Linked DNA regions of Homo sapiens. The protein of the gene in region 2 interacts with the protein of the main gene of each other region in a pairwise test. Each region holds a gene or a part of one and is shown on either strand. Other genes may lie near its edges.

Evidence for each region. The genes of interacting proteins can lie anywhere in the genome.
Region 1: the proteins of CSTF2 (region 2) and ZNF341 interact in binary tests that used the Homo sapiens proteins (3 or more experiments, as listed by UniProt).

Annotation. Positions count from the first base shown.
Region 1 is NC_000020.11:33,748,972-33,755,998, reverse strand, and holds part of ZNF341 (zinc finger protein 341), read right to left. Parts: coding exon 6,927-7,027; intron 2,828-6,926; coding exon 2,576-2,827; intron 1-2,575. UniProt on the Homo sapiens protein: Transcriptional activator of STAT3 involved in the regulation of immune homeostasis. Also able to activate STAT1 transcription.
Region 2 is NC_000023.11:100,830,382-100,837,408, reverse strand, and holds part of CSTF2 (cleavage stimulation factor subunit 2), read right to left. Parts: intron 6,602-7,027; coding exon of another isoform or gene 6,542-6,601; intron 6,360-6,541; coding exon of another isoform or gene 6,187-6,359; exon of another isoform or gene 5,901-6,186; intron 5,895-5,900; coding exon 5,753-5,894; intron 4,676-5,752; coding exon 4,500-4,675; intron 4,230-4,499; coding exon 3,937-4,229; intron 71-3,936; coding exon 1-70. UniProt on the Homo sapiens protein: One of the multiple factors required for polyadenylation and 3'-end cleavage of mammalian pre-mRNAs. This subunit is directly involved in the binding to pre-mRNAs.

The DNA of each region.
Region 1 (7,027 bases), on a different chromosome or scaffold from region 2:
CACCCACCTCGGGCTCCCAAAGTGCAGGGATTACAGGCGTGAGCCCCTGTGCCTGGCCTATTCATCATCCATTGGTCTTCCTGAGGTGTCCTATCCAAAATCTCTGGCCAGGCACGATGGCTCATGCCTGTAATTCCAGCACTTTGGCAGGCCGAGGAAGGAGGATCACTTGAGCACAAGAGTTTGAGACTAGCCTGGGCAACATAGGGAGATCTCATCTCCACAAAACATTAAAAAAATTAGATGGGCATGGTGGTGCATGCCTGTAGTCCCAGTTACTCAGGAGGCTGAGGTGGGAGAATCATCTGAGCCTGGGAGATCGAGACTGTGGTGAGCCGTGATCATGCCATTGCACTCCAGCCTGGGTGACAGAGCAAGACTCAGTCTCAAAAAAAAAAAAAAAAAAAGAATTCAACTCAGCAAAAAGCCCAAAGTTGAAAAAATATTTCAGACAAATATAAATAAATAGAAAGCTACAGTTGGAGTAATAAAATCAGACAAAGCTGAAAAAAAGGTACAAAAAAAATTATAAAATCTGGCCGGGTATGGTGGCTCATGCCTGTAATCCCAGCACTCTGGGAGGCTGAGGTGAGAGGATCACTTGAGGCCAGGAGATGGAGACCAACCTGGGCTAAAGTGAGACCCCTATCTCTAATTTAGAAAAGAAAAAACATCCCTCTGCAGAAATACCTTGCCTGGTTTCTATTTTCCTGACCAAACCCTGACCAATACAGCACTCAATAAATACTTGTTGGGACGGGTGTGGTGGCTCATGCCTGTAATCCCAGCACTTTGGGAGGCCAAGGCAGGCAGATCACCTGAGGCCAGGAGTTCGAGACCAGCCTGGCCATCATGGTGAAACCCGTTTCTACTAAAAATACAAAAAAAATTAGTTGGGCGTGGTAGCTCATACCTGTAATACCAGCTACTTGGGAGGCTGAGGCACGAGAATCGCTTGAACCTGAGAGGTGGAGGTTGCAGTGAGCCGAGATCACACCACTGCACTCCAACCTGGGCGATAGAGTGAGACTCTGTCTCAAATAAATAAATAAATACTTGTCACGTGAATAAATTCAGCCATCACTCAAGGCATTACTGAGTAATTAATGTGACTGCCACTGGCATAGGCTCTTATTATCCTCAACAGCTTTTCAGGAGAGTTCCCATTTTAGAGGAGCGCAGACTGAGGTCAGACAGTCCAATGTAAGATATCTACTCTAGGAGTGCTCTGCTAGGTGCTAAGGATGCAAAGTCTAGTAAGACTCAGACCCTGCCCTCAAATACCCTCATCTACATGGAAAATCAACAGCAGCAGCTCCTTCTGTGCTGGTCCTCTCTGGGCTGGTCCCCTCTGACTACCACAAGCCACCAGCATTATCTCAGCATCCCACTAACTTAACTTTTTCTCAATGCAATAAATTCCCTAGAGAAGCTTGTTCTATTCTCCCAGGGTAGGGCAAATCCCCTCGCAGCCCCTCAGAACATCACGTGAATGCCTCGTGGTGGGATCTTCCCACTGGTCTGGGCTCTCTTTACATAAAGAGACTACCTGACAGGGGATGTCTGTGGCTGGATTCTATGGTGAGTCTGAGTTAGTGTGATTTCTAGTGCAGGTGGGTTGTTTCTGTCATAACCATACCCTCTAGCACTGGTGTCTTGGAAGGTTCTATGAACTCAGTGCATTTCAAGTAGATGGCCTATAACTTAGAGCTCATTGGCAGGGAATTAGTATGGTACATTGATTGTATTATGGCACCAATTCTTTGCCCCTCCCTGTACCCAAGCCTTTGCAGTGTGACTCTGCAGTTCCTCCCATCAAGAGGTGGCATCTATTTCCCTACCTGCGCTATCTAAGCTGGACTTGTGATCTGCTTTGGCCAATAGAAGTGATTCTGTGTTACTTACAAGCCTAAACCTCAAAAGGCCTTGGGCATTTCTGTCTGCATTTTTGCACCTCCACCATGGCCATGAGAACCTAGTGGAGGATGAGAGTCACGCAGAACAGAGCTGAGTCACCCCACTTGTCCCAGCCCAGGCCATCCTAGAGCAGCTGACAGCCAGCCAACGTTCAGACATATGAGTGAGCCCAGCCAAGATCCGCAGTTGTCTAGCTGACCACTGTAAACACGTGAATAATAAACACTTTTGGTATATGCCACTGATGCCTGATGGATATTTCTTACCCAGCAATAGCTAACTGATACACCTAGCTTATTAAAAACTGTAAGAGACACTCAGGCAGATAATTTTTTTGAATCTTTTTTCTTTTTTTTGCCTGAAAAGGTAGGCATTCTCTGACTGTTCTGAGCATTACCTGCAGGCAGCTTATATTTCTGCTACAACCTGTACTCCATTCCACCTTCTCATGGCTTGCATCTTACATCTGTGGGTGTGATGCTTTGATTAAAGTCCTTCTCCCCTGTGATGTGGTACACCCCATGAAGGCCAGGACCGGGTCTGGTTTTCATGGTATCCCCAGCACAGTGTCTGGCACACAGCTGGTGCTCAGGATGGGTCCGGGTTGGCCATGATGTCCATGACCAGTGTCCTCTTCCACCCTGCCCCCTCTGCTCACCTCTAGGGGTGGGTAGGGCTGCATCCCCAGTGCCTGGATCTCCACCGTTCCACTCCCAGCCAGGGGCGCAGCAGCACTGTACACCTCCACCACACCGTTCCCACCAGGGTTGGGACGCCCAGGGGGGCCCAGGCTCTGGGGTGGAGGTGGTGGAGGCTGAGGTGGTGGCGGTGGGGGCAGTGGTGGAGGAGGTGGAGGAGGAGGTGGAGGCTGGGTGAGGTAGCTGGGCACGGAATGCATGTTCAGGCTGCTCTGAAATCAGAAAAGAAAAAGTGTTATAGCCTCTTGATACCAGTTGTCTTATTTATCAGGAAGGAAGGACATTTGCTTTAGCCAGCCAGGTGGAAAAACAGCTACTTACCAGACAGCTCAGGAGAGGGGCTAAGAGAGGTTGGGGAAACAAAGTCATGGGAGAATTCGAAGGAAGCCTCAGCTTGGTGCTGCTATCCCTTTTCCCTATGAAAGTAGGCAAAAATGGCCGGGCGCAGTGGCTCACGCCTGTAATCCCAACACTTTGGGAGCTGAGGCGGGCGGATCACGAGGTCAGGAGATCGAGACAACCTTGGCTAATGGTGAAACCCTGTCTCTACTAAAAATACAAAAAATTAGCCGGGCGTGGTGGCGGGCGCCTGTAGTCCCAGCTATCGGGAGGCTGAGGCAGGAGAATGGTGTGAACCTGGGAGACGGAGCTGGCAGTGAGTGGAGATTGCACCACCACACTTTAGCCTGGGTGACAGAGCAAGACTCCATCTCAAAAAAAAAAAAAAAAAAGAAAAGAAAATAGGCAAAAATGACCTCATTCATGCAGAAAAGAGTTAATATAGCAGCCTAATGTTGCTATCTTAAGAAGGGCTTCCCTTTCCATCTTGGACCCAGCAGAATGGCTCCCAGAAAGAAGGGTGGCGAGAAGAAAAAGGGTCATTCGGCCATCAATGAGGTGGTGACCTGAGAATACACCATCAACATTCACAAGTGCATCCATGGAGTGGCTTCAAGAAGCGTGCTCCTCAGGCACTCAAAGAGATTCGGAAACTTGCCATGAAGGAGATGGGAACTCCAGATGTGTGCATTGATACCAGCCTCAACAAAGCTGTCTGAGACAAAGGAATAAAGAATGTCCCATACTGCATCCGTGTGCGGTTGTCCAGAAAATGTTATGAGGATGAAGATCCACCAAATAAGCTCTATACTTTGGTTACCTATGTACCTGTTACCACTTTCAAAAATCTACAGACAGTCAATGTGGATGAGAACTAATCGCTGATCATCAAATACCTCAAATAAAGTTATAAAATTAAAAAAAAAGGGGGGGGGGCTTGCTTGCAGCACTAGCTCGTGACTGGGATCTGAGAATCTGGTTTGTGGGACATCTCCTTTGTTGATAAGGCTTATTTTGCCCACCTGGGGCACTGTTCTATTGTACCAGATTATGTAGACTGCTTGGACAAAATATGTGATTCATGGTGAACACTTCCTTCTCTTCTGGGAGTCTGGAATTTTGGTCATGGTGGCTGGTCACCTACATGACCAATCCCTAACAGAAACCCTGGCCTTGGGCTTGGTGCAGCGGCTAACACCTGTAATCTCAACACTTTGGGAGGCTGAGGCGGGTGGAGTCCAGGAGTTTGAGACCAGCCTGGGCAACATGGCAAAACCCCATCTCTACTAAAAATACAAAAACATTAGCCAGGCATAGTGGTGCACACCTGTAGTCCCAGCTACTTGGGAGGCTGAGGTGGGAGAATCACCTGAGCCCAGGGAGGTGGAGGTTGCAGTGAGCCGAAATTGCACCACTGCACTCCAGCCAGGGCAGCTGAAGTGAGACCCTGTCTCAGAAAAACAAACAAACAAACAAACAAACAAAACCCTGGCTTTGGAGTCTGAAGTGTGTTTCCCTGGGTAGAAACACAGCACACATGTTGCTAGACTTCACTGCTGCAGGAAGAAGTGTGTTTTGTGCAACCTCTCCCCACCTCCCCAAGACAGAGAACTCTGGATTCCTCCAGATTCCACCTGATGTGTCTTTTTCCCTTGCTGATCTTGCTGTGTGTTCCTTTGCTGTAATAAACCACAGCCATGAGTACAACTACCTCTGAGTCCCGTGAGTCTTTTGAGAGAATCATGAATGTGTGGGTAGTCGTGAAACGCAGCCAGTAACTTCTAGAAATTTATGCTACAAAAAAAATCAAGCAGGTGGGCAAAGATGTCTGTTTATGGATAGTGACTCCAGCCATTTTCATAAAAGCAAAAAACAGCAATGACCTACATGTCTATACATAGAAACTTGGCTAAGCAGAAGATGGCCTATCCATATGGTGGAATCCTTTGCAGTTGTTAAAATGATGGTACTGCTGGGTGCAGTGGCTCACACCTGTAATCCCAGCACTTTGGGAGACAGAGGGAGGAGGATTGCTTGAGCCCAGGAGTTCAAGACCAGCCTGGGTAACATAGCGAGACTCTGTCTCTAAAAAAAAATTTTTTTAGGCCAGGCACGGTGGCTCACGCCTGTAATCCCAGGACTTTGGGAGGCCAAGGTGGGCAGATCACCTGAGGTCAGGAGTTCAAGACCAGCCTGGCCAACATGGCAAAACCTTGTCTCTACTAAAAGTACAAAAATTAGCCAGACATGGTGGCGGGTGCCTGTAATACCAGCTACTCAGGAGGCTGAGACAGGAGAATCGCTTGAACCCAGGATGCGGAGATTGCAGTGAGCCGAGATGGTGCCACTGCACTCCAGCCTAGGTGACAAGAGCGAGACTCCATCTCAAAAAAAAAAAAATTTTTTTTTAAAATTAGCCAAGTATGTTGGCACCATGTATGTAGTCCCAGCTCCTCAGGAGGCTGAGCAGGGAGGATTGCTTGAGCCCTGGAGTTTGAGGTTACAGTGAGCTATGATCCTACCACTGTACTCCAGCCTGAGTGACCTGAGTGAGACGCTGTCTCAAAAATAAAAACATGATGCTGATCAGCATTTCATAAAGGACACGGGGTCCTCTTCTTCACTGTGTTCGTTGGGTTCCCAAACAGGGAAAAAAAAAGTCTCGGTTGAGAAAATCAAAAGGATTTCTATATGGCAGGAAGAATCCAGGGACACAGCAAGGGGAGAAGTAAAACACCTCCACCTTAGGTTCCTTTGGCCACAGATCTTTTTTGTATTAAAAAATCCTGGCCAGGTGCAGTAGCTCACGTCTACAATCCCAGCACTTTGAGAGGCCGACACTAGAGGATCCCTTGAGCCCAGGAGTTCAAGATCAGCCTGGACAACAAAGGGAGATGGTCATCTCTACAAAAATTTTTTTTTTAAATCCCAGGGAGCTACTGTGCATTTTCTATTTTTCTAATAGACATGGGACACTTGTTAAGAATAAAAACAAGGCTGGGCGCGGTGGCGCACACCTGTGATCCCAGCACTTTGGGCCAAGGCAGGTGGATCACCTGAGGTCATGAGTTTGAGACCAGCCTGACCAACACAGTGAAACCCCATCTCTACTAAAAATACAAAAATCAGCTGGGCGTGGTGGCGCACACCTGTAATCCCAGCTACTCAGGAGGTTGAGGCAGGAGAATTGCTTGGACCTGGGAGGTGGAAGTTGCAGGGAGCCAAGATCGCACCACTGCACTTCAGCCTGGGCAACAGAGCAAGACTCTGTCTCAAAAAAAAAAAAAGAACAAAAACAAAAGTCAGGCTGGGTGCAGTGGCTCACACCTGTAATCCTGTAATCCCAGCACTTTGGGAGGCCAAGGTGGGAGGATCACCTGAGGTCAGGAGTTTGAGACCAGCCTGGCCAACATGGTGAAACCCCGTCTCCATTAAAAATACAAAAATTGGCTGGGCACAGTGGCTCACACCTGTAATCCTAGCACTTCAGGAGGCTGAGGTGGGGGGCTCACTTGAGGTCAAGAGTTCGTGATCAGCCTGATCAACATGGAGAAAACCTGTCTCTACTAAAAATACAAAAAAAAATTAGCTGGCTGTGGTGGCACATGCCTGTAATCTCAGCTACTCAGGAGGCTGAGGCAGAAGAATCACTTGAACCCAGGAGGCAGAGGTTGCAGTGAGCCAAGATCGTGCCACTGCACTCCAGCCTGGGCAACAGAGTGAGACTCCATCTCAAAAAAAAAAGTCAAAATAGCTGCACTGTATTGACAAAGCCCCACATGTTCTGGGTCCCCACCTAGACGTAGCAGCTTCCCCATCTATAGCAGAGCTGGACAAGGGAAAGCTGATAGCCTCCCTCAGCATCAGGGAGAGCTGGGGCCAGGCCCCCTTTATTCTACAAGATTCTGAATCTGCAGGAGTTAATGTACAGGTCTGGAATCAAGACCCTGTGAGAAGCCCACACCTTCTTACCTGCACAGGTGGGGGGCCCTGGGGCATGGGCTGGTCCAGGGATGTGAAGGCTGACATGGCAGACATGAGCACATCATCGCTCACCAAGATGTTCCCCTGCA
Region 2 (7,027 bases):
TAAAGCCGCCAGGCTGGCTTCCACCCTGTATACTTGCTCCTTGCATTCCTGTTCCCTGCATGACTGGGACCTATGTGTACAAAGAGAAAAGAGAGATTTTTGGCATTTTTAATGTATAGGTAACCTGAATTCAGTAATAATGTGACAAATTATGATCTCTATACAGATATGAGTAAAAAAAGCAAATCAATGACTCTGAAGATCATTTTCTACTGTTAGCAATAGCAGAAGGCAGGGTTTAGCCAGAGATCAACTAGCAAGTTCGACATACTTGCTTACAACACCTCCAGCATCATCAACAAATATTACACAGCACAACTGGATACCACTGAATTAATCAAAATTCAGCCAAATAAGCACAGTGAAAACTGAGAACACCCTGGAAACTAGTGCTCACTGGAAATACAAATGAAAGCCAACAGAGTCTAGAGAAAATGTATGCTGGTCCACTGGGGAAGTTACATTCACAGGGCCACCCCCTACCCTAGTTCAATCAGATACAGGTAGTTTGTCCCAAAGGGCCCTATCCCACAAGTGAGGCAGAGATGTTCATAATGTCAGAGAGGCAGAAAGGCAATGGGAAGGCCTCCAGGAAAAAGACTGCTATTAGCCCAACATTTGCTGTTTATAGCTTTCCATAGAGAACATATGGCAGATGCTTTCTGCTAAATGTAGACCAAAAAATATGACTGACTGGAGTGAAAAAACCAAGTACAGTGATATCATACTTACTGGTACTTAAGATCTTCAATGAGTTCAACCCTTTGCAAGACTACCAGAACCCAAGGAAAAGACCTCTTGAGTACCAAATCTAACTGTTAGAATGTCCCTATACAAGCATTATGTTCACACTCAGGCATTCACCCAGAGCTTAGGTACTCTCTTAATAAACACATATTGTTAACAAACTTGTTACCTGCTTACCCAGCAGATTAGAAGCAGCAAAACATAAAAGAAATACGGATAAATAACTGTTAGGAGCAGATACCACTTCAGTAATATGAAGAGCCAGGTGACGGCCTGACAGTGAAGGAGACCAGAAACCAAACAGGAGATAACTATGTTTTATATTACGGTATAGACAATAATGAATCTATTCAATGATGACCTTGAGTAGTCAAAACTGATTAAACTATTTTTTTGTATCCTGTTCAAGAAAGGAAATATCAAATACTTTTTATAATTTTTTATTAAAAAAGTTAAAAAACTTGGTAGAATAGTTCTATTATCTGGAACATTCACTTACATGCATTAACTCATTTCCCAAAGACAATGGATAGATGAAACATTAGTACAGATTTGTATAGACTGCTAGAATATTATCACTGTTCTGTTCATTATCAATACTGAAACCAGAGACAAGTTTCCAGAGACCAGTCTGAACATTAACGAGCTATTATGGGTCTGAAACACCTATGAGTATAATCTTTTTTTTTAAAATTTTTTATTTCCATAGGTTATTGGGGAACAGGTGGTGTTTGGTCACATGAGTTTATAGCAGCACAATTCGGAATTGAGTATAATCTTTTTGAAGCTTTAATCTGAGGTACTGTAATTGTGATCTAACCACTCAATAACGGCCATTTTAAGTTTCTAGGTGTGCTTGTTCTAGGCAGACAAGTACTAGCAAAAGTGACCATACATCTTGGTTTCCCTAAGATAGTCCCAGTTTATGTTTTTGCCTCCAAGTAAAGTAACAGCACTTTCTTTCATGTTCTCCTTTAGATGATAAATTATATAATCACCCTAGTAATAATAAGCCTTTTGCCCACAAGTTTCTAACTAAGTGGACTAGAGTTAATTTTAAAATCTAATTTAAAAGTATGAATTAAGGACATGTTGTTAAGTTAAAAAAAAAAAAGGTATAGAACAGTGAAAGGGGAAAAATAATATATATTCATGTTTTCCAGAAAGTAACATGAAAAATCTAATAAAAGTGATTATCTACAGGACCTAGAGGGCCACAGGGGAGACAAGCATAGGAGAGGAAGCAAGGTTCCTTTTAGTTTAAGATGTGGTCTCACTATCTTGTGTAGGCGGGCCTCCAACTCCTGGGCTCTACTGATCCTCCTGCCTTAGCCTCCAGAGTAGCTGGGACTACAGGATTCTACCCTGGCTTTTTTTTTTTTTTTAAAGATGGGAGTCTAATATGCTGCCCAGGCTGGAGTGCAGTGGCTAGTCACAGGTGCGATCAGAATGCACCACAGCCTCAAGTTCCTAGACTTAAATGGTCTTCCTGCCCCAGCCTCCAGAGTGCTGGCACTACAGGTGCATGTCACCATGCCTGGCTTGAAGTTCTTAATACATATATCTTTTATAGATGAACGAATATATATATTTATAAGTTAATATATTAATTTAAAATTTTTTTAAAGGTTTGAAGATAAAATTTGTATTTTCTCTTGCCTCAGATCTAATTGGCTTTATCGAATCTACTAATAAAAATGGTATAAACCTAGTATTAGGGTAATAAGTTCAAGTACCAGCAGAGAGAAAGGAGCAAAATATTATCCAGAAATGTTCTTCCAACCCTTACTTGCAATGTCTTGCATCATAGAACTACCAGTAAAATTATGTAAGCGCATTATGTAGTTATTTGTTTGTTATCTGTCTTCCCAACTAGAATGTAAGCCCATGGGGGAAGGGGCTTTGTTCTGTTCACACTGCAGTATCCCCCGTACCTAGATCTATGTTTGGTACATAGTAGGTGCTCAATAAATATTTGCTGAGTGACAGAATGAATGCATAAAAACCATTTCTGTTACTAGGCTACTGACCATAGAGAGTACAATAAAAATCAAGGCCCACAAACACTTCAAACACAATAGAGAACAGTTTTATTCTACACATAGCAAAAAAACCCTCTATTTGTATTTCATATTACAGAGGAGGGGGTAGACACATATCCACACATATACACACACACAAATGTGCAGATAACAGGACAGAGTAGTAAAGTGGAAAAAGTAGTGGCTTCTGTTCCTTGCTCTGCCACTTTTTAGTCATGTGAATTTGGTCAAGTCACCTGAATTCTTGGGCCTTAATTTCCAAATCTATAAACTGAGGGAATTAGATGATTGATGTATTCCATTCCAGCTCTGCCATTATCTTTCTCTCTCTCATACACACAGACATGGGGAGGAAGACACATAAAAAAAGAAGAGAGAAGTACGCAGAGGAAGGGGGGAAAAGGAAGGTGGAGCAGTTAGAGGGAAATGAAGGTGCCAGCATATAAAAACTCACGGAAGAAACACACATACCACCTCTCCACAACCAAGTCGAGATGAAGAGGGAGCATGTACACACAGGCAGAGAGATCCAAATAAAAGAGAGGAGACAAGACTTCGGTTCCACACCTTTTAAGGTGATTATTAATAAACTGCCTTTCACATTCCACTGTTCACTTAGGCTATGTGATGACAATAAATTAACACAGGTCTCTCTAAACCTAAGATTATCTAAATGGCCACTAACAGCTCTTCATATACTCTAACCCAGTGGTTCCCAGTCAGGGTTCACATTAGAATCATTTGGGGGAAGTTTTTCAAACTATCCATGCTCAGATCCTACTAATAAGAGATTCTGAGTTATACCTCGGATGAGATCCGGGCAAGTATATCTTGGAAAAAACCGTGTACATGATGTTGGTTTGTACCCCAATCAAGACTACTTTCTAACCCCTAAATTTTCAGGGGCTCTGCTCCAAATGAATAGCTATTTATTGTGGGATAAGGTTGTTTTTTTTTGAACTACAATCCTGATAGCCAGAAAATCACCACCCTAAGGGACAGAGAAGCTACAGGGAGATCCAAGTCTTCCCTTTCTAACAAGCTAAGAAACAGCCCAAGTCAGAAGGCAGTAATAATTAGGCTCAATAATCAATTCCTGAATAGATCAAGATTTCACTTGGATGCCAGAAGTCAGTGTTACACATACCTGTCTGGATCCCTGGGGGACAACCGCCCCCATGTTAATTGGACTGGGACCCTGCATTCCACTAGGTATAGGTCCTCTGGGGCCAGGCACTGGGCCTCTGGTATCCATGCCTCTGGCCTCCATCCCTCGGACTTCCATTGCACGGGCCTCCATCGCTCGGGCCTCCATTGCACGAGCTTCCATCGCACGGGCCTCCATTGCACGGGCCTCTAATCCTCTGGCATCTAACCCTCTTGCCTCCATGGCTCGGGCCTCCATCCCTCGTGCATCTATTCCTCGGGGATCCCTTCCACCTATAAAGAAAAATGTAACAAAACCATTATGTAGCTACTTGCATGTACTGCAAGAATGATGAACAATCCAAGAAAGATAGAAATCTCTTCTAGTCACATTTGTCCCCTCAGCTATTAACATATGAGACTATTGTCTCCTCCCCAGTTTCTCAGATTTGTGGATAAACCTTAAAGATGCTTGCAAACCTACTGTTCCAGCATTCTTTATCCCAGATTAGAGCCTAAGACAGTTGAGTTCATTATGGCATTTGCAATGTGATCTCCCCTTACCTCTGCCATCCAAGGGTGGACCCCTCTGATCTAGCATGGGTCCTCTTGGTTCTGCCATTAGAGGTCTGGGCTCGGGTAATGGCCCTCCCCTCAGTTCATGTGGGGGTGGTCCTCGGCTCTCATGGCCAGGGACATGGTGCATGGGTGGACCCTGATGAGGTGGTCCCAAGTAACCTCTGGAGATGGAGAAAAACGTTGTATTTTAAAATAGAACAAAACAACAACAAAGTACCAACCAGATCAGTAAGTAAACATCCAACAAAGAGCTGATGTAGTCTATGAATACTAACAAGAAAATAACACCAAATAGATGGAAGAAAAGCTACAGAGATATAAATCCATGTATTCTAGAATTTCGTTATTTGGTTCATAATTAGGGAGGAATCAACGAATATTCATTATATGTATGAGTTTGCAGAACAATGCATAAGAACATGAGCTCTGGATTCAGACTGTATGGGTTCAAATCTAGGCTCTATCACTTATTAGCTGTGTGATATTGGACACATTATTTAACTTTTCCACACATCAGTTTCACGTGTAAAATGGGACTAATAATGGTATCCATCTCACAGGATCTTGTGGATTTAATAAGATGATCTAAGTAAAGTACTCAGAGCAGAGTCAGAGGCATGATCCCCATTAATGTCAATTATTATTACTATCATTATTTTATTTATTTATTTACTTTTGAAATGGAGTTTCACTCTTGTTGCCCAGGCTGGAGTGCAGTGGCATGACCTCGGCTCACTGCAACCTCCACCTCCTGGGTTCAAGCGATTCTCCTGCCTCAGCCTCCCCAGTAGCTGTAATTATAGGCGCCCGCCACCACGCCCGGCTAATTTTTCTATTTTTAGTAGAGATGGGATTTCACCATGTAGGCCAGGCAGGTCTCGAACTCCTGACCTCAAGTGATCCACCCACCTTGGCCTCCCAAAGTACTGGGATTATAGGCGTCAGCCACTGCACCCGGCCTATTATTGCTATTATTAATATTTCCACTACTATAAATTTCCCTGTTCAAGTATGTATACTAAAATTTCCAATTTCTAAAAATATAATAGCTCAAAATGACATACTCAAGTACATAGTTCTGCCTTAGGAGAAGTGCTTACCCTTGGACAGTGGCCATGAATATTGATCTACCTTTTGAAGTAGGCAAACAGGTACAACTGGTACAGAAAGATTTTGTTCTCAGGGAAGAAGGGACAATTCTGATTTCTTCAACTGTTTCCTTCTATGTTAGTGCTTACCTAGGCTCTACCTCTCCAGTTACAGAAAGTAAAGTGCCTCCCCGTGGATCATTCGGAGCATCTCCTAACAAGCCTCGAGGGGTTGGGACATTCGCAGGCAAGGATCCCCGCTGCATAGCTGCTCTGGGGTCTTGCATCGGCACTGACAGGGAAACAAACGGGGAGTTACTGCTGTGAAAGACACATAAGCAAACAAGAAATGACTCTATATACCACTGACAACATAATTCAGACACCTTAGAGTGGGTGAAACCTCACCACAGCAGAATCCTCTTGCAGCTCAAGAACAGAAGCAGGGTGTAGGCAGAATCTGTGCCATGTCAGAGGTATGGATGGAATTATATAAAGAGCAAACTGGGGAGCAACCTGCCAAGGACTAGCACTGCGACCTGGAGAAACTTATGCTCCTGGTTTTCCTTCTAATCAATCTTAGTTCAAGGACCAGAGTCACAAAACAGAGGTAGAGTCTTGGCATATGTGAACACTGCCATGGCTCTGCAAGAACCCGCTGTCTCCTTACAGACTGCTATTCCATCCAAGCCTCCTGACACCAGTAGGGAGGGAGTACAGCCTCGGACAGATGCCCATATCATCCATGTTCTCTGCCCTGTGTGAAGAGGTCAATCTTAGGCTTGTGGCCTCAACAGGAAAAAATTAAAAAAACAAAAACCCAAAAACACTACCCTTTTGGGTTCTGAACGCGAGGATGACTGCCACGCAGCTCTTTTCCTCTCAACGTCCCACCCTGAACACCACAAGCAAAAGGAAACCCACAGATACAATGGGTACCTTGAACTCGCTCAATTGATGCAGGCCCGGCGGGTCCCACGGGCGAGTGCTGTAGGGTTCCTAGGTAAGCAGTAAGTTCAAAAGGAGAAAGAGCAGACACTTAAAATAGCTTGCATACACACGCAGAAACACACACACATGGAGATTGAGATTTACATATATAAGTTAAAAAGCCAAGAGTTCATCGGCTTGCTCCAGGCTACAAAATCTCCCTAAACTACACTAGCTCCTTTGGGTCTCTGAAATAGTTCCATTTTGACCAGATAGCTTTTGAAAGGGAATCCCATGGGGGCACTGGTTTGATCTAGGTGGGAATAACCTGACATTTTCGATTTTCACCTCTGCTACTAGTTTTCCGTTAGGTCTCCTTATGAAATCATTAGGAAAAAAATATATAAAAAGGATAGTTTTGAATCTTCTAGTTATGCAAAGAACATAAATGTAGTTTCAGAAGCAAAACATAAAAGAAACTGCACTGAATCTGGA